Linked DNA regions of Homo sapiens: regions 2, 3 and 4 are each linked to region 1. The links come from fine-mapping of genetic effects on gene expression. A gene starts in region 1. Each other region holds a variant in brackets. All regions are shown on one strand. Distances are between the middles of the regions.

Region 1 (5,150 bases):
CATTCTGTAATACCTGATATATCATTCCTTTACTACCCATTCCAAATGTTGATTTCTTTCCTAGATAACCGCCAGGATTCTCCTAACTGGTCTCCTTGTCTCCAGCCTTGCCTTCCCTCATCCCTCAAGTGCCCTAAGTGATCTTTCTGGATCAGAAATCTGATCCTTTTATCCTCTTGATATGAAAGCCCTCCAGGAACATCCTTCAGTCCACAATGTCGAGGATACACTCTACAGGATGAATTCCAAGCCCTTTAGTGCAGCTCCACAATCGCTTACCTACAGTCCCGAAATTCAAAAGCTTTGAAATTTTAATTTTTTTCATTGGTTTGCAACAGAACCCACTGTGAATGCTGGGAGGTTATTTATCGTCTATCCCATTAGCGTGACATTCACGTGTTTCAATGTAGAAACATTAACGTGTTTGATAGAGTTAACTCAGACCCTGATAAAAGTCTCACATAACAGACCTTGCCAGAAAAAAGAAAAATCCCAAAATATTCTGAAGTCCTTACACCTGGATCCCAAGAGTTTAAGAGACTGTGAAACCTTTATCTTTTCAGCCCATCAATCCAATCTAATTTCCACCAATCACCCTACACAGTCTTTAGTTCCAGGGATGTAGAAGGGTGTCCTGTGCCCTGAATACCCTCCAACCCAGTGAGGTACTCATTCTTCAAGAAACCTGTTCATGGATTTCCTTTCCTGTGAAATTTCCCTGACCTTTCCTCTATTGTGCCACAACCATTGTACTGAGGACTCACCTCCACTGCTGCAAGTTATATGTTTCTCCTGTTAGACTGTGAATGAAGTCTTCATTGAGTACTTTATTCAATCCTAGCACAGTGCCCCAACACTAGGGGCTCATTAACGGCCAATTAGCTAAAACAAATTCATGCCCAGCTTTCCCTAACTCTCAATTTCCTTCAAAGTTCATTTCTCCTTCATCCCCAAACCTTAGGATTTTCCCTAACCATGCAGTCCACTTTCCGAGTTTCTCTTTCCCCATGTCATCTTACAATTTTCTTCCAGGCGCCTTCTCTGGACCCCTTGCTCTCCAACATATTCTCTCCACCTCCATTTAATCCATAGTCCTCCTCTCTCCTATCTGTGAACACGCCAAGTCCCCTCCCTCCAAAGCAATCCATCTTCACTGCCCTTACCTCTTACCTACTCCCTCAACACCTCGCTGGCCCGGGCCCTTTCAGCCAAAACGCTTCCTCACAACGTGTTTCCCAAATCCCCCTTCTCTCACTGTACGGGTCTGCCAGCTCCAGAACCAGCGCTCGGCCGGGTTCCGCACATCACAAACCCTCCCTCGGAGCCAGTGTCCCCTCCCCCAGCCTCTCGCAGCCGGCACCCCTCCCTTCATGCTCCCCTTATCTCTTGCGGTCCAGCTTCTCTGGAAAGTGTCCCAGGGGCGAGTCTTTCACCTTAGAGACCCCTCGGGATGGCGCCCGTCCGAGCAGCCCCAGGCCCCAGCACCTCCGTCCCCAGCTCCTCTAGGGTTGCGCAAATCCCTTGCGGCCCAGATGCCAGGCAGGGCCTCCGGCTCACCTTGCTGGATGTCGCCGTTGCTGCCCCCCGGGATGGGCACGCTGAGCTGGCGCTCCGGCTCGGGCAGGCAGCGCAGGCAGAAGGAGTGAAGACAGGGCAGCAGCTTGGGCTCCGCCTCACGCCGGCTCTGCAAGCTCTGCTGACACACGGCGCAGGTGTCCAGGAGCGAGGCTGGCGGTCCAGGAGGCGGCCCTGCCGAGGGACCCGGAGCGGGAGCCGAGGCTGGAGCTGGAGCCGGCGTCGATACTGCGCCCCCGGCAACTCCAGTGCCCACTGAGGCCGCAGGAGATGAAGCAGCCTGGGCCGAGCCCGAGGAGGCCGCGGCCACCCCCCCGTCGTCGGGCCCGGCCGCGCCGCCCTCAGCGCCGGCCCTGCCGCCTTCCTCCTCCTCCTCCTCCACCAGCACCGCGGTGAGAGGCGGCTCCGCCTCCTGCGCGGCGGGCCCGGCGGCCCCGGCAGTTACCGGCGCGCTGCCGCTGCCCCCGCCGCCGCTCTCAGCCTCGCCGCCGCCTTTGTTTTCCGCCATGTTTTCCTCTTTGAACCCGCCGGACCGCCCCGCGCCGCCCGCCGCCCGCGTCGCCGCCGCCGCCGCCCCCAGCCCCAGCCGCAGCCGCAGCAAGAGCGGCAGCCGAGAGCTAGCGAGAGAGCGAACCAACGAGAGCGCGCGCGCACGCGGCGCCCCCGCCCTCGCGTCGCGCGTTTGAAGGAGGGCGGTTGCGGCACGCGCACGTACGCACGGACGTCCTCCCGAGGGAGGCGGGAACTCGGTTCGCGGGCGCGGAGCGGTCCCGGACCCTCGAAGCCAGTTCCTTGCGTCAGTGCCGCGGCTCTTTAACCCGAAGGGAGATTTTTTTTTTAAAGCCAGAGGCCGTTGACGCTGGGTAGCCTTTGGCTGGGGTTGGTTATGAACTCCGACACAGCGGTGGTGCATACGGAAGGGTGGTAGCCGGGACGGTTCCGGTCCCTGCGAGCGTGTCCCGGGCGTCTCCGCGGAAGTTTCACCTGCCGCGCCGCTCGATCGCCGGGACCTCCTGGGTCTCTGCTGTGCGTAGACCAGCCGCGTTCCTTTGGGTGGCCGTGGAGCACTAAAGCGGGGCTTATTGTTTGTTTGGTTTTGGTTTTTTTTTTTGTTTTTTTTTTGCTTTTTGTTTTTGAACTGAGGATCTATCAGAAATAGGCTGAAAAGACCGAGTGAGGAAGAAACTCTTTAACAGCTATTTTTGGCATCTTAAGGTGATTCTCAGGAGTTGCTACGTATCAGAATCAACGGAGGAGTTTTTCAAAGCAGAGATGCCAGGGCCAGTCCCCAGACCTGAATCAGGAAGTGAGGGAGAGAGCCGACGGAGGGGGAAAAGTCCCTTCAGCTGATTCTTATGTATGTCAGTTTGGAGAGCCACGGATATAACCAATACTGCGTCCTTCTGAGGTCCCACTTTAAGTGTCCTGGGTTGAGCTGGGTGACAAATGCCCTTACAACAATGGTAGTAGAAGCTTTCAGGCCAAGCGCAGTGGCTCACGCCTGTAATCCCAGCACTTTGGGAGGCCGAGGCGGGCAGATCACTTGAGGTCAGGTCAGGAGTTCGTGGGCAGCCTGGCCAATATGGTGAAACCCCGTCTCTACTAAAAATATAAAAATTAGCCGGGTGTAATGGCGTGCGCCTGTAATCCGAGCTACTCAGGAGGCTGAGGCAGGAGAATGGCTTGAACCCGGCAGGAGGCGGAGGCTGCAGTGAGCCGAGATAGCGCCACTACACTCCAGCCTGGGCGACAGAGCGAAACTCCGTCTCAAAAAAAAAAGAAAAGCTTTCAGAAAGTTGCCTTTTTATTTGAAAAAAAAAAAAAGGTATTTGGAGGATTTTATGTAGTGCAACAACTGTTTTAGTGTTAAGATCATGAAATGCTTTGGTCTCCTGTTAGTGTTCCCAAGAAAGGTGCTGTAAGTCCTTAAACCACGTGAAAACTTTTTTTTTTTTTGAGACCTCCTCGTTCTGTCGCCCTGGCTGGAGTGCAGTGGCGTCATCACATTTCATTGCAGCCTCGACTTCCCAGGCTCAAGCCGTGCTCCTCGCAATTACCTGGGACCGTAGATGCACGCCACCATGACTTAGCTGATCTTTTTTTTCCCTTTGCCTCGAAGAGGCTGGGGTCTCACCATGTTGCCCAGGCTGAAACTCCTGGGCCCGAGCGATTGGCCCGCCTCAGCCGCTGGAAATGCTAGCATTACAGGCATGAGCCACTGCGCCCAGCCTCCTGAAAACTTTTTAAAATTTATTCAAAAATGTTTCCTGACCTCTTTATTGTCATAGTGTTTTAGAGATACACTGGGATTACAAAACAGAGGAGCTCCCTGCATTCAAGGGGTTTACAATCTAATAGAGAAAAAGATTGAGAATAGATACATGCCAGGGAGTGGTAAGTGCTGTGAAGAAAAGAATAAGTGGGGTAAAAGGGGTTAGAGGTGATTGAAGAAGGCCCCTGTTGATCAGATGAAGGAACCTGTCTTGGAGAAGAGCAGGAGAGGAACACATAACAAGTGCAAAGGGCCTGAGGGAAACGGATTCTTGGCTTGTTAGAGGAGGAGTCAGTGTGGCTGGAGTGGCTTGAACAAGGGAGAGAATAGTAGGACATGAGATAAGAGAGTTATTAAGGGAGCCAGGTCATGTACAGAAATGGTCTTCAATTTTTTTTTTAACTTTTGTGCCCTTTGAAAGAATTTTGGAAGGCTGTTTTCTTTCCTCAAACATTGTAAGTTGACTAAATTTTTTCAGAAGTTTAAATAGTTGCAGAGTTTAATTTGTGACATTCTGTAATACTGACATTTAAAAATTATTTTTAATCTAATAGGGAAGTAAACACTAAAGTGGCTTAATACTATCCATTTTTTAAAGTATATTAAAATGTTATATTTTTTAAACATGGAAAAGTATTGGGAATGTTTTAATGATATGGCTGGGAGTCTTCCCCCTTCCCCTAATTATTTCGAGTAGGCATGAATGCATATAACATTGCTAGAATGAGATAAGGTCCTGTATCAACTCCATTTTTCATTGCCACAGTCTTTACTGCATTAAAAACTATATATGTATACATGTATGTATCTACACACTCACATATATGATGGAGTAATTCCCTTAAAACTACCCTTACTTTTTTATGTACCCCTTGGAAAATTTTCCTTCACTGAAGTACCCCAGGAGTACTCATACCCTAGCCTTAGGACCACTGAGTCAGATAGGAAGGCTTGGATGGGTTTTGAGCAAAGACTCAAAGCAGAATTGTGAAAAGAGTCACTGTGGCTGCTTCCTAGAGGAATCACCTGTAAATGGTCAGTGGAATAAGGAAGACCAGTTAAGGGGCTAATAGGGTAATAACTCGGTTGGTTGGATCAGGTTAGAATCTGTAAAGGTGGTGAAAAATATGGAGTATAAATCATAAACACTTCTTCTCAAATTCACTTCAAAAAAATAAGCTAATGAACTGAATTTCTCAACCAAAAGTTTTGCTTCCATGAGTTTTCTTAACCTTTTGATGCCTGCTACATTTGCCTTTATTAAAATCTAGAATAAAAGTGTTGTTTTTGAAAACTATATAAT
Region 2 (5,150 bases), 140 kb before region 1:
TTTACATTCTATCAAAATATTTTCTATGCCATTATTATGAAGTTTTGGCTTGCTTAGAAAAAAACTGTGATAAACATTTTTAAAATTAAGATTATTGCATCTGTGTATCTTTCTGTATGTACTTTTAAAGTCATTGTGACATTCAGTTACAGGGCTTTGACTCCTGGGTCTAAAAAGGACACCAAGTCCTGCTAAATTTTAAACCCTGACAGTAATTAAAGTCTCATCTTCAGGCCTGGTAGAAGACGCCAATCAAAATAAACTGCATTCCTGAGACACAGGGCCAGAAATTAAAGCTATTCAACTCCTCAGGGCCCAGAGACTATTGCAGAAGAGATGGGTGTGTGAGATTGTCAGGGCCAATTTGACAGATAAAATAAGTTCAGTTTTTCTATAAATTAATGATTAATGTCAAAGGCACACTGATGCAAGACACTGATGCAAGCATATGGGCCCCTGTGTCAGATTGACAAAGTTTTCTTGAAGCATTAACCAACTCCTTAATAAATGTTATAAAGTTTATAAAAGGCTTATGGAAGTTATATCTTGTAGTCAATATAAAAATTTTAGAGATTGTTTATAAAATTTTGGAAAGCAAATTTAATTGGCTTCATTCTGTTTTCATTAGGGCTTATTGTTTGGAAAATTAAGTCTCCTCTCTCAAAGAATGAAGGTTTTTGTCTTTTGTTGAAATCCTTATCACTTTTATTAAATGAATGACTTATTTTACAATGATCTGTGATCCTATTTTGTGATATCAAGTGTTTTAAACCTTTGATATTTGACAAACTTTCCAAAATCAAATTATAAATTATGTGTTTTTCTGATCTAATTAATATTTTAAGATATTAGGTTCCCTAAAGCCCAAAAATGATATATTTGGCTTATTTGGTATAAAAATTTTACAGAAAGCATTGTCAAATATAAAATGGTATTTGGTTTTCTTTGGGCTGTATTTGTATAAATATGTTATTGGTATGTGTTCCAAAATTGTGGAGAAACTCCTATAATTCTGATATGACTTACTGTACATTAACAGTAATAATTATAATTGTTATGTTAAATTATTGTGTGCCACAGAAGCAACAAATTTCCTTGTGAATTGTGTCTTTGACTATGGCTGCCCTAAAACTCTTTGTCATCCACAAACAATTATTGTCTTGTTTGGGTCCTCTTTAGAAAGTGGTTTGATAATCAGCTATAAAACTCAAACAGGTACTTTTGAATGCAGGTTTCTGATAACTTTGAAGATTGTGACATCAGAATAGAGGAAAAACTTTCAGGACTCATGGAGAGCTGAAATGCTCATGAATATCAAGCAGAATAGGAATTAACTGCATGGACTGAAGTAAAAGAAGACTGAAGTAATCTTTTTGACGTTTTGCTGAAAACGTTGCTGATCCTTTTGTTTTTCAGAGTCAAGGAAATTTTGTTTTGAGCTACTGACAGATTTTTTTTTTTTTGACACAATTTTGCTCCTTTTTCCCAGGCTGCAGTGCAATGGCACAATCTTGGCTCACCACAACCTCTGCCCCCTCAGTTCAAGCGATTCTCCTGCCTCAGTCTCCCAAATAGCTGGGATTATGGCATGCACTACCATGCCTAACTTTGTATTTTTAGTAGAGACAGGGTTTCTCCATGTTGGTCAGGCTGGTCTCAAACTCCTAACCTTAAGTGATCCGCCTGCCTCATCCTCCCAAAGTGCTGGGATTACAGGTGTGAGCCACCATGCTCAGCCTACTGACAGCTTTTAACAATTAAATATACTCCTATGAAAAAAATTTGGAGCATATTTGTTTCTCTCTACCTGATTTCTCCAGAATTTAGAAACTATTTGTGAACATTCTTAACTTATGACAATATTGTTATTTGCATAAGTGCAATAAGAATCTGTTTTCATTTGTAAATGAAATAGGACACCATTGGGGAAACTGGTTATTTCACCAAGGCTTTGACTGGAATGGTGTGCATTCCTGTAAGGAATCAAACTTGACTTACAGAGCCAATAAAAGTGCCTTGGGAAAGCTGGCCTCATACTTTGTACATAGTCCCTGTAGAGAGTTCCTGACCTGTGGTAAGTAAGGAATGTCACTTTCTGACAGGCCCAGGAGCCCCAAGTTATCTTGGGACATCAAGAGGAGAAAAATTCACCCAACTTACAGGTATTTGATGGTACAAATCCATGGCTGGGCTTGGTTTTAAAAAGTCTTATCTGAGATTCCTTCTATGGAACAAAGTTCCATCAAAGCCAATTTTAAAAGCCTATGTAAAAAATAATTATTCTTAGATGGGCATGGTGGCTTACACCTGTAATCTCAGCAATTTGGGAGGCCAAGGTGGGCAGATCACAAGGTTAGGAATTCGAGACCAGCCTGGCCAACATAGTGAAACCCCACCTCTACTAAAAATACAAAAAAAATTAGCCAGGCATGGTGGCATGTGCCTTTAGTCCCAGCTAATCGGGAGGCTGAGGCAGAAGAATCACTTGAACCTGGGAAGTGGAGGTTGCAGTGAGCTGAGACCATGCCATTGCACTCCAGCCTAGGTGACAAAGCGAGATTCCATCTCAAAAAAAAAATTATTTTTGCTGCATTTTTTTTGAGACAGTCTCATTCTGTTACCCAGGCTGGAGTGCAGTGGTGCAATCTCAGCTCACTGCAACCTCTGCATCCCGGGTTCAAGCAATTCTCCTACCTCAGCCTCCCAAGTAGCTGGGACTATAGGCACGTGTCCCCACGCCTGGCTAATTTTTTGTATTTTCAGTAGAGATGGGGTTTCACTGTGTTAGCCAGGCTGGTCT[C/T]GATCTCATGACCTTGTGATCTGCCCGCCTCGGCCCCCCAAAGTGTGGGGATTACAGCTCTGAGCCACCGCACCTGGCCTTTCTTGCTGCATTTTATACAAATAATCTGGCCAAGTATAATAAAGCAAATTGGTCCTACCATGATTTCTCTTTAGTAAAAATGGGAAACTAGAGAGAGAAAAATTATGTTTCAAAAAGTATAGTATACCTGTTGTTAGATTCTAGTCTTGCCTAATGTTTTTCAATTTTTATTATTTTCTACAGTATGGTCTGAATTCTAATTTTTCCTGGATGCAAGTCTCCAAAACAATGTTTACAATTTTTTTCTCCTTTCTTTTGCTTCACCCCCCATTTTTCCCAATTTTAAATCTCTGAAAACTAGGCTATGTTTTCTTAAATCCCTGTGAACTGAATCTAGACAACTTAAACTTAGGTAGAAAATAACAGCCATCTATTTGCATACATAAGCCACTTTCATAACTGCCTAATGATGTATGGACTTCAGAGTAATGTGGCCTATATTGATTTTCCAGGATTGTTCTTTTGTTTGTTGTTGTCTTTCTCCCTTCCTCCCCTTATTTTCTCTTCATAGGACATGAGACTTCTCAACCTGCTAAAAATGAGCTTTCCTAATAACTCTAAGAATAAACCATCCTAGCCATGAGAGATCAGAAAAAACCTGAGACCAGAGGCTCATTTTCTTATAAAATGCTTTCTCCAAAAGATTTTTTTAAAGGGGGGAGATGTGAAAGGAAAATAAATTTTGGGGCCCCCAAATCACTAAGCTAAAGGGAAAAGTCAAGCTGGGAACTGCTTAGTGCAAACCTGCCTTCCATTTTGTTTAATATTCAAAGCCATCCATCTGCTCATTGAGATGAATGCATATCTGATTGCCTCCTTCGGAAAGGCTAATCAGAAACTCAAAAGAATGCAACCATTTGTCTCTTACCTACCTGTGACCTGGAAGACTCCTCCCTGCTTGAGTTGTCCCACCTTTCTGGATGGAACCAATGTACATCCTACATATATTGATTGATGTCTCATGTATTCCTAAAATGTATAAAACCAGCCTGTTCCCTGACCACCTTGGGCACCTGTCATCAGGACCCTCAGGCTGTGTCACGGGTGTGCATCCCCAACCTTGGCAAAATAAACTTTCTAAATTAACTAAGACCTGTCTCAGGTATTTGGAGTTCACACGAGGTTTTGCCATATTGGCCAGGCTGGTCTTGAACTCCTGGCCTCAAGTGATCTTCCCTCTTCCACCACCCAAAGTGCTGGGATTACAGGTGTGAGCCACTGCACCTGGCCAGCTTTCTGTTTTGAACAGAATTTTCATGTAATATTAAAAGATAACAAAAGCTTTTTGTTTGCCTTTTGAACAAGTGACAGAAGAAAAAAAGGGAAGAGAATAGAGACAGATTTAGTTGGCCTCATGCTGTCTTTATTGGGTTTTTTGGAAAGCTGAGTCTACCCTCTATCAATGAGCAGAGATTTTTCCCTTTTTCTTATAATGACCTGGAATTCTATTTTGTAATCTCAAGTGTTTAAACATTTGATATTTAACAAACTTTCCAAAGTTAATTTCTAAATTAAGCCTTTTTTTTGCTCTGATTATTCCTTTTAGATATTCAGTACCCTAAAGTCCAAAAGAGGCATATTTGATTTGGCATATTAAAATCATACAGAAAGCACTGTGAAATATGAAATGGTGTTTAACCTTCTTTAGATTACATTTATATAAATGTTTTATCAGTATGTGTTCCAAACTTGCATGAGATTCTTATGATCCTGATATATCTTAATATGTTATCAGTAGTGATTATTATGTAAAATTGTTGTATGCCATAAAAGTAGCCAAAATTTCTAGTCACTTATGTCTTTAACCATGGCCATTCTAAGACTTTTGTCTTCCACGATGGTTGTTTTACTTTGATCCTTTCATAGGGCAGTTTATAATCAGCTATAGAACTCTGAGGAGTACTCTTAAATATAGGTTTCTGATAACTTTAGAGATTGTGCCATTGGACTGAATAGAGAGAAAAGCTTCCAGGACTCTCATGGAAAGCTGATATATTCATGAGGATTGCTGATTCCATATTGAGCAGCACAGGAGTTAATTGCATGGAATGAAATAACAAAAGATTGAAGTAATCTTTTACTACTTTTTGTTTAAAGCATTTGATTATTCTTTTTGTTTTTCAGAGTTGAGAAAACCCTTCTTTGAAGCTATGTGCAGCTTTTAACAGTTGGATAAAGTAAACTCTTAGAAATTGGAGTGTATTTCTTTCTCTCTACCTGATTTCCCCAGAATTTGAAAACTATTTGTAAGTATACTTAATTTATGGGA
Region 3 (5,150 bases), 130 kb before region 1:
TAAAAATAAAAAAAGAAATACAAATAAAGCCTTTTACCATTTACCTCCCCATTCACCAGATACTCTCTACATGGCAAGTTCAACTATGTGCTCCAAGACAGAACTCTCAAGAGTTAACAGTCAATTTACAAACCAAAGCATGCCCTCTGTGGAACTCCCACTCACCAGGAGGTTATCTGGAGAGGTAACAGTCAAAAGCATACACCCACTACTCTCTCACTACCTAGTTACAACTTATCTCTGCCCACAGATGTCAACCCAACTGCTCAGAAGATAAGACACCAAGCTAGCTAACAGACACCCACCTTGCTCACTTCCTCCTCTGCCTTTTACAAGTGTCTGCTTTCTGCTCCAAAAGTAAAGATAGCTTTGGAATAAATCACTTTCATTATACTAGAACTTACTCTTGTTAATTGAACTTTGTGCAGCTAGCAACTGACCGGTGTTTCAGTCACAAGACCATATTATAACCTAAGAATTGGTAATAGCTTGCTTGTAGTTTCTAGCCCTCTGTAATGGACCAAGTTAGGGAGATAAAATAAATATTATTTTAAAATCAACTTTATAAGATATAATTTATAAAAAATAAAATGTATCCATTTAAAGTGGATAGTTAGGCTGGGTGAGGTAATCCCAGCACTTTGGGAGGCCGAGGTGGGAGGACTGTTTGAGCTCAGGAGTTTGAGACTAGCCTGGACAACACAGGGGGACCTCATTTCTATAAAAAAAAAATTTTTTTTTAATTTAGCCAGGTGTGGTGGTGCATGCCTGTAGTTCCAACTACAGCAGTTCAGGGCTGCAGTGAGCCATGTTCACAGCACTGCACTCCAGCCTAGGTGACAGTGTGGGACCCTACAAACTGACTTCTACAAAGTCAGTTGGGATTTGGATAGGGATTATACTGAATCTGTATATCAGTTTGAGTATTGATCCATGAACACCAGATATTTTTCCAAATATTCAGATTTTCTTTTTTCAGTAATGCTCTGTAGTTTTCAGAGTACAAATTTTATACCTGTTTTGTTAAACTATTTCTATCCTAATCTTTCTGATGGTATTGTAAATGAAATTATTTTCCTAATTCCATTTTCAGTTGGTTTATTGCAAGTGTGTAGAAATACAATTGATTTTTGTATATTGATCTTGTATCCTGCAATCTCAAACTCATTTATTAGTTCTAATAGTTTTTAGTGGATTCTTTGGGATTTTCTAGATATAAGACCATGTCTGCCAAAACATAGTTTGACATCTTCTTCTTTTTTTGAGACAGAGTCTTGCTCTGTCACTCAAGCTGGAGTGCAGTGGTGCAATCTTGGCTCACTGCAACCTCTGCCTCCCAGGTTCAAGCGATTCTCACACCTCAGCCACTCAGCAGCTGGGATTATGGGAACGTGCCACCACACCTGGCTTTTTGTATTTTTAGTAGAGATGGGGGTCTCACCATGTTGCCCAGGCTGGTCTTGAACTCTTGTCCTCAAGTGATCTGCCTGCCTCTACCTCTCAAAGTGCTGGGATTACAGGCATGAGCCATTGCGCCCAGCCTGTTTTATCTTCTTTACTTGTTTTAAGTCAATTCAGATTGTCTGTTTCCTCAAGTCACTTTCAGTAGTTCATGTGTTTCTAAGAATTTATACATGTCATCTAGGTTATCTAATACAGTGTCATACAATTGTTCATTTTATTCTCATACTTTCATTTCTGTAATGTCTTAATCATTTCTGATTATAGTAATTTGAGTCTTCTTTTTCTTGGTCAGTCTAGCTAAATGTTTGTCACATTTGTTGATCTTTTCAAAGAACCAGCTTTGGTTTTCTTGGTTTTCTCTATTTTCTATTTCATTAACTTCAGCTCTGATTTAGATTTCCTTCCTTCTGCTTGCTTTAGGTTTAATTTGCTCTTCTTTTTCCATTATCTTCAGATGGAATGTTAAGTTATTTTAACTCTTTCCTAACATAAGTATTTACGGCTATAAATTTCTCCGTAAGCTGGGCTTTAGCTGAAGTTCTGTTACGTTGTGTCTTCATTTTCATTCCTCTCAAAGTATTTTCTGATTTTCCTTCATTTATTCTCTGACCCACTACTTAACTTAGGAGTATTTTGTTTAATAATCCACGTATTTCCAAGTTTCCCAAACTTCTTCCTGCTATTGATTTCTCATTTCATTCCATTGTGCTGGAGTACATACTTTGTATCATTTCTTTTTTTTTTTTTTGAGTCGGAGTCTCCTTCTGTCGCCCAGGCTGGATGTGCAGTGGCGCAATCTTGGCTCACTGCAAGCTCCTCCTCCCAGGTTCACGCCATTCTCCTGCCTCAGCCTCCGGAGTAGCTGGGACTACAGGCGCCCGCCACCACGCCCGGCTAATTTTTTTGTATTTTTAGTAGAGACGGGGTTTCACTGTGTTAGCCAGGATGGTCTCGATCTCCTGACCTCGTGATCTGCCCACCTCGGCCTCCCAAAGTGCTGGGATTACAGGCGTGAGCCACCGTGCCCAGCCGTATCGTTTCTATCTTTTTAAACTTATTGAGGTTTCACAGATTAACATATAAGCCTATCCTAGAGAATGTTTCATTAGCACTTGAAAAGAATGTATATCCTCTTGTTTGTTGACAGTATTCCACAGATGTCTGTTAGGTAGTTGGTTTATTGTGTGGTTTAAGTCTTCTGTTTCCTTACTGATCTTCTGTCCGGTGGTTCTATCCATTATTGAAAGTGGGGTACTGAAGTCTCCAGCAATTATTATTGAAGTGTCAATTTCTCTGTTTCTGTCAGTGTTTGTGTCATGTATTTTGGTGCTCCATTATTAGGTGCATATATTTATAATTATTATATCTCTCTGAGGGATTAATCTTATAAAATGTCCCTTCATATAATTTTTTGTTCTAAAATCCATTTTCTCTTAAAGTATATCCACTCTAATTTTCTATAGGTGCTATTTGCATATTTTATTCTATCCTTTTACTTTCATCAATCTGTTTCTATTTTGAATCTAAACTGTGTCTCTTGTACATAGTATACAGTTGGATCAGGTTTTCAACATCACTAATGATCAGGGAAATGCAAATCAAAACCACAATGCGA[T/C]ACCACCTTACTCCTGCAAGAATGGCTACAATCAAAACAAAAAATAATAGATGTTGGCATGGATGCAGTGAAAAGGGAACATTTCTACACTGCTGGTGGGAATGTAAACTAATACAATCATTATGGAAAACAGTGTGGAGATTCCTTAAAGAACTAAAAGTAGAACTACCATTTGATCCAGCAATCCCACTACTGGGTATCTACCCAAAGGAAAAGAAGTCATTATATGTAAAGATAGTTGCACATGCATGTTTACAGCAGCACAATTCTCAACAGCAAAATACAGAACCAGCCCAAATTCCCATCAATCAACAAGTGGTTAAAGAAATTGTGATATACATATAATGGAATACTACTCAGCCATAAAAAGGTATGAATTAATGGCATTTGCAGCAGCAACCTGAATGGAACTGGAAACTATTATTCTAAGTGAAATAATTCAGAATGGAAAACCAAACATCGTATATTCTCACTCATAAGTGGGAGCTAAGCTATGAGGATGCAAAGGCATAAGAACAATACAATGAACTTTGGGGGCTTGGGGAAAGGGTGGGAGGGCGGTGAGAGATAAAAGACTACAAACTGGGTTCAGTGTATACTGCTTGGTGATGGGTGCACCAAAATCTCACAAATCACCACTAAAGGACTTACTCATGTTACCAAATACCACCTGTTCCCTGATAATCTATGGAAATAAAAAATTTTAAAAAAAAGTTTTCAGAAAATTCAGTCAGTCTTTTGATTGGATTGTTCAACCTATTCATATTTAACATTACTGATTTGTTGGATTTATGTCCTTTTTTGTTTTCCATGTCTTACCAAGTTTTTTTGGTGACTATTTTCTAATGTAGTATTTTCATTTATTTTTTTTTATTTTTTGAGACAGAGTCTCACTCTGCCGCCCAGGCTGGAGTGCAATGGCGCGATCTCGGCTGACAACCTCTGCCTCCTGGGTTCAAGTGATTCTTCTGCCTCAGCCTCTCAAGTAGCTGGGACTACAGGTGCGCGCCACCACACCTGGCTAATTTTTGTAATTTTAGTACAGAGGGGGTGTCACTATATTGGCCAGGCTGGTCTCGAACTCCTGACCTAGTGATCTGCCCATCCATCTTGGCCTCCCAAAGTGCTGGGATTACAGACGTGAGCCATCGCACCTGGTCGTATTTTCATTTCTTTAATAGTTTCTCATTACAAGAGAAACTTTGTTGATTTTTTTTTTTTTTTTTTTTTGAGAGAGAGGGTCTTACTCTCTTGCCCAGGCTAGAGTGCAGTGGCATAATTATAGCTCACTGTAACCTCTAACTCACAGGCTCAGGTGATCCTCCTGCCTCAGCCTCTCAAGTAGTTGGGACTACAAGCACTCACCACCACATCTGGCTAATTTTTACATTTTTGTAGAGACAAGTTCTCACTATGTTGCCCAGGCTGGTTGTGAACTCCTGGCCTCAAGTGATCCTCTCATCTCAGCCTCCCAAAGTGCTGAGGTTACAGGCATATAATCTCAGCCACTGCACAGTCCTGAATTTTTAGGTCAGTCTAGGCTTTACCATATGCATCTTTCAGAACTAGGCTAATTACATGCAAACATTGCTCTTATATATCTCTATTTTCATTTTCTCCTTTTTGTGATAGTTATACATATTAATATTACAAACTCAACAACACATTGCTATTATTACTTTACCAACTGCAGTTTCTCTAGCTCCGTACACCTTTGCTCTTTCCTGCTCATTTCCTTTGTACCATTATCAGAAAATTTCATAAACATTACATTTTCATATTTATAGGGCCACTATTATATATAGTGTTTATATAATTTGTTTCTTCTTAAAATCAAGAGGAGATATTCATTTGTACTGTCCTATATAATTACACAATTACCTTTACTGGTATGTATTCAAATTACTATCTGGAGTCCCTTGCTTTCAACCTGGAGTCCTCTTTTAGTATTTCTTGCAAGGCAAGTCTCCCAGCAACAAATTCTCTTTTTATCTGAGAAAGTCTGTGTTTCACCTTCAGTTTTGAAAGTAGTTTGCTGGATATAGAATTATTGGTTGACATTTTTTTTTTA
Region 4 (5,150 bases), 26 kb after region 1:
AATCATGTATGCCCCCGGCCCCATAAGCCCTGAATCCACCCTTGATTTACTAACTACTTTGGATGATGAGGGTTTAGCTAACTTAGATCGTAGCCCTTGCAACACACATCAATACACAAACATTTCCCCTTCCCGGTTTCCCAAAATGTAGTCAAGCTATTAATTTTTAGTTCATTTATCATGTTTTAGCCTCTAAGGGCCCTTTCTTGTTATCTTTTCTACATTAGCCTGTTCTTTGTCTTATGGATCCAATATTCGATCTCTCCAGCAATATTGTAGGGGTTGTCTTATTTTGTTTGTTGGTTGGTTAGTTTTTTAGTTTAGTTTTATTTTCTCAATTGTCTGTTTCCTTTTAAGTTCCTTTTCCCTCATGGTTTGTTTTGGCCTCTCTCTTATATTGGAGACTTTCCTAAAATGGGTGGTCATCCAACCATATTTAAGAATGAGGCACCAAAGCTGGACATAGTGGTGCATGCCTGTAGTTCTAGCTACTTGAGAGACTGAGGTGGGAGGATCGCTTGAGCTCAGGAGTTGGAGGCTGCAGCAAGCTATGATTGCACCACTGCATTCCAGCGACAGAGCGAGATCCTGTCTCTAAAAAAAAGTAATAAAATAAAATAATTTAAAAATAAGAATGAGGCACTTAAAAGCTAATCAGAAGCTCAGGTTGGGGAGTTTTCTAAATGGTGAGTGTGGTAGGAAACCTGAAAGGTAGCACCCAGTGATCCTCACCTCCTGGTATTCATGCCTGTGCAACAAAAGGATTAACCTTGCCCCAAGAAGTATCTGGCCTTTACTCTCACTTTCTGGGAGGTAATCTCTAAACTCTTGGAATGTTCTTTGTTTACCTGGGGGCCTTGGGCCATGCCAGATGGTCTATGCTAACTATGTGATATATGGTAGGGGCTCTGAACCATGCATTGTCAGCTCAACCTCAGGAGGGGGTTGGACATGAAGGCCAGCCACACAGGCAGTCAGCCACGTCTACATGACCAATAAAAATTCTGGACACCAAGGCTTGGAGGTGCTTCCCTGGCTGGGAATATTGCATGTGTATTATCACACATTGTTACTGTGAGAAGAATAGCTCCACTGGGAGAGGACAACTAGATGCTCTGCATTTAAAACTCTCCTGGGGCACAGCAGCTGCACATCCTGGGGCTCCTGACCTCTTTGCGTTTGCAGTGTAGCCCAAATCGGTCAGCACTGGAGGACCTCAGCAGCCATGTTGAAGCCCCATAGTGAAGCCGGGACTGCCTTCATTCAGACCCAGCAGCTACATGCAGCCACGGCTGACACATTCCTGGAGCACATGTGCCACCTGGACATTCACACACCACCCATCCCAGCCTGGAACACTGGCATCATCTGTACCATTAGCCCAGCTTCCCAATCGGTGGAGATGTTGAAGGAGATGATTAAGTCTGGAACGAATGTGGCTTGTCTGAACTTCTCTCATGGAACTCATGAGTACCACGTGGAGACCATCAAGAACATGTGCACAGCCACGGAAAGCTTTGCTGCTGACCCCATCCTCTACCGGCCTGTTGCTTTGGCTCTGGATACTAAAGGACCTGAGATCCGAACTGGGCTCATCAAGGGCAGCAGCACCATGGAGGTGGGGCTGAAGATGGGAGCCACTCTCAAAATCATGCTGGATAACACCTACATGAAAAAGTGTGACGAGAACATCCTGTGGCTGGACTACAAGAACATCTGCAAGGTGATGGAAGTGGGCAGCAAGATCTACGTGGATGATGGGCTTATTTCTCTCCAGGTAAAGCAGAAAGGTGCTGACTTCCTGGTGACGGAGGTGGAAACTGGTGGTTCCTCGGGCAGCAAGAAGGGTGTGAACCTTCCTGGGGCTGCTGTGGACTTGCCTGCTGTGTCAGAGGACATCCAGGACCTGAATTTTGGGGTCGAGCAGGATGTCGATATGGTGTTTGCGTCGTTCATCCGCAAGGCATCTGATGTCCATGAAGTTAGGGAGGCCCTGGGAGAGAAGGGAAAGAACATCAAGACAATCAACACAATCGAGAATCATGTGGGGGTTCAGAGGTTTGATGAAATCCTAGAGGCCAGTGATGGGATCATGGTGGCTCGTGGTAATCCAGGCATTGAGATTCCTGCAGAGAAGGTCTTCCTTGCTCAGAGGATGATGATTGGGCGTTGCAGCTGAGCTGGGAAGCCTATCTGTGACAGTGATGTGGCCAGTGCAGTACTGAATGGAGCCGACTGCATCATGCTGTCTGGAGAAACAGCCAAAGCGGACTATCTGGAGGCTGGGCGCATGCAGCACCTGATTGCCCATGAGGCAGAGGCCACCATCTACCACTTGCAATTATTTGAGGAACTCCCACCCACTGGCGCCCATTACTAGCGACCCCACGAAAGCCACCGCCGTGGGTGCCAACGAGGCCTCCTTCAAGTGCTGCAGTGGGGCCATAATCGTCCTCACCAAGTCTGGCAGGTCTGCTCACCAGGTGGCTAGATACCGCCCACGTGCCCCCATCATTGCTGTGACACGGAATCCCCAGACAGCTAGTCAGGCCCACCTGTACCGTGGCATCTTCCCTGTGCTGTGCAAGGACCCAGTCCAGGAGGCCAGGGCTGAGGATGTGGACCGCTGGGTGAACTTGGCCCTGAATGTTGGCAAGGCCCGAGGCTTCTTTAAGAAGGGAGACGTGGGCCGGGCTCGGTGGCTCACGCCTGTAATCCCAGCACTTTGGGAGGTCGAGGCGTGCAGATCACGAGGTCAGGAGATCGAGACCATCCTGGCTAACACGGTGAAATCCTGTCTCTACTAAAAATACAAAAAAATTAGCCGGGCGTGGCAGCGCGTGCCTGTAGTCCCAGCTACTCGGGAGGCTGAGGCAGGAGAATGGTGTGAACCCAGGAGGCGGAGCTTGCAATGAGCTGAGATCGCAC[C/T]GCTGCACTCCAGCCTGGGCGACAGAGCGAGTCTCCGTCTCAAAAAAATAAAAATAAAAATAAAAAGAAGGGAGATGTGGTCATTGTGCTGACCGGGTGGCGCCCTGGCTCTGGCTTCACCAACACCATGCGTGTTGTTCCTGTGCGGTGATGGACCCCAAAGCCCCTGCTCCAGCGCCTGTCCCACCTCCTTTCCCCGAACCATCCATTAGGCCAACAACGCTTGTAGAGCTCAGTCTGGGCTGTAATGTGGCACTGGTGGGCTGGGACACCAGGGAATAAGATAAATGCCTTGCTGAAACATGGCTGTGTTTACAGCCTGCTCTGGCAGGACAGCCCAGAGCCTGGCTGCCCATCATGTGGTCCCACCCAATCAAGGGAAGAAGGAGGAATGCTGGACTGGAGGCCCCAAAAGCCAGATGGCAAGAGGATGACAGCTTCTTTTCCTGTGTGTACTCTGTTCAGTTCCTTTAGAAAACAGATGCCCAGAGGACTCCCAACCCCTGGTCTGGGGTCAGGAAACAGCCAGCGAGAGTTAGGGGCCTTAGGGCACAGGACAGTTCTTCCATTTAAGTACTCTGGCCTGACCCTTACTTGCTTCCCCAAACCCCTGGGCCTCCCCAATTTGCGCCTGTCCCCACCCTCCACTCAGCTGTCCTGCGGCAAACACTCCACCCTCCACCTTCCATTTTCCCCCACTACTGCAGCACCTCCGGGCCTGTTGCTATAGAGCCTACCTGTATATCAATAAACAACAGCTGAAGTTAAAAAAAAAAAAACAAAAACTCTCCTGGACACTGTCCTATGTGCCTCTTCAGTGAGTCCTGTGAGTCCTTCTAACAAATTGTCAAACATGACAGTGTCTCAGGGACCCCAAGCTTGCAGTTGGGGTCAGAAATCATGGTGCTCTTGGGGATTCCCTACATTTGTAATATCTTTATGTAGTCATGTCTCCTTTAGTATGGGCTGGACTTAGGGACTTGCTTCTATCAAATAAAATATGACAGAAGTGACAGGATGTCCATTTTAAGATTAGTTTATAAATAAGATTAGTCTTCCATTGTGGGTGCTCTCTTTTGTGTTGCTTGCCCTGGGAGATGACAGCATTCATGTCCTGAGGTGGCCCTGTGGAGACGCCCACTCATCCTGTGATCAATAACCACACATAATTGAGGTTGGAAGCGGATCCTTACCCCAGTTGAATCTTCACATGAGACTGCAGCCCTGGCTGATAACTTGACTGTAATCTCATGAGAGACCTTGAGCCAGAAGTGCCCAGCTAAACCATGCCCTGATTCTCGACCTGGACAAACTGTAAGATAATAAATGTTTGTTGTTTTAAGCCACTATATTTGGGGTAATTTGTCATGCACTGGGCTACAATATAAGGTGATCTGGTAGACCTATGTATTGGATATCCACAAATGTTTTTATCTGGAGGTCTTTATTTTCTAGAGAGGTTCAATTTCTTCAGAAAAGAACTTTCCAATCTCCCAGGCAGCATACGCCTGGCTGCATGAGTTCAGGGTCCAGAGCTGGAGAAAAGAACCAAATTTTCACGCGTTCTCTTCTTTTTAGCCCCTGTACAAACCCCTGTTATCTGATGCACCTGATGTACCTAAGTCTGGAGCCCTTCCCGGATCCTTTATCTGGAGAGGTTGTTGCCCAGTTATGCCCAGCTGGAAAAGGGACCTGATGAGTCTAACTGCTTTGTAAATACACTTTCAACAATTTTCCTTGTTTAAAACCTAGATCCTTGTTCTCACCTTTTAAAGTAACCGGTGCTACTCACAAGAATAACTCCAGAGGATATGAATCTACCATGCAAGAGAAAGCTACAAAACTTTTAGGAGATAATAAAAAACAAAACCTTTATGACCTCAGGATGGAGAAAGATTTCTTAATCTAGTTTCAAAAAGCATTAGTTATAAAGAAAAAAAGATAAATTAGTTTACATTAAATATAAGAACTTTTGTTTATCTGAAAACATCATTAAAAGAGTACAGGCCAGGCGTGGTGGCTCATGCCTGTAATCCCAGCACTTTGGCGTGGTGGCTCATGCCTGTAATCCCAGCACTTTGGGAGGCCAAGTCAGGTGGATCACTTGAGGTCAGGAGTTTGAGACCAGCCTGGCCAACGTGGCGAAACCCTGTCTCTACCAAAAATACAAAAATTAGCCAGGCTTGGTGGTGTGTGCCTGTAGTCCTAGCTATTCAGGAGGC

What was found. PIP is the estimated chance that this variant, and not a neighbour inherited with it, causes the effect.
Region 2: its variant is the best candidate, but not a certain one, in a credible set for the expression of TRIM33 in whole blood (TOPMed, PIP 0.77).
Region 3: its variant is the best candidate, but not a certain one, in a credible set for the expression of TRIM33 in whole blood (TOPMed, PIP 0.57).
Region 4: its variant is the best candidate, but not a certain one, in a credible set for the expression of TRIM33 in whole blood (INTERVAL, PIP 0.57).

The regions. Positions count from the first base shown.
Region 1 is chr1:114,508,994-114,514,143 of GRCh38, forward strand. TRIM33 (tripartite motif containing 33) reads right to left here and starts at 2,210. Exons shown (of 20, transcript NM_015906.4): 1 at 1,558-2,210. The coding sequence starts at 2,083. It overlaps LOC124904348 (a long non-coding RNA gene), which reads left to right and starts at 2,345. Exons shown (of 2, transcript XR_007066452.1): 1 at 2,345-2,932. RefSeq lists silencers at 1,747-2,046, 2,077-2,186 and enhancers at 2,377-2,546, 3,407-4,169.
Region 2 is chr1:114,372,480-114,377,629 of GRCh38, forward strand. No RefSeq gene overlaps it. Among named protein-coding and RNA genes, the nearest start is that of TRIM33, 140 kb to the right of the region's middle. RefSeq lists a silencer at 1,594-1,794. The variant C/T (reference allele first, on the strand shown) is at 2,801.
Region 3 is chr1:114,379,966-114,385,115 of GRCh38, forward strand. No RefSeq gene overlaps it. Among named protein-coding and RNA genes, the nearest start is that of TRIM33, 130 kb to the right of the region's middle. The variant T/C (reference allele first, on the strand shown) is at 3,080.
Region 4 is chr1:114,534,770-114,539,919 of GRCh38, forward strand. It overlaps the pseudogene PKMP1. Among named protein-coding and RNA genes, the nearest start is that of TRIM33, 26 kb to the left of the region's middle. The variant C/T (reference allele first, on the strand shown) is at 2,929.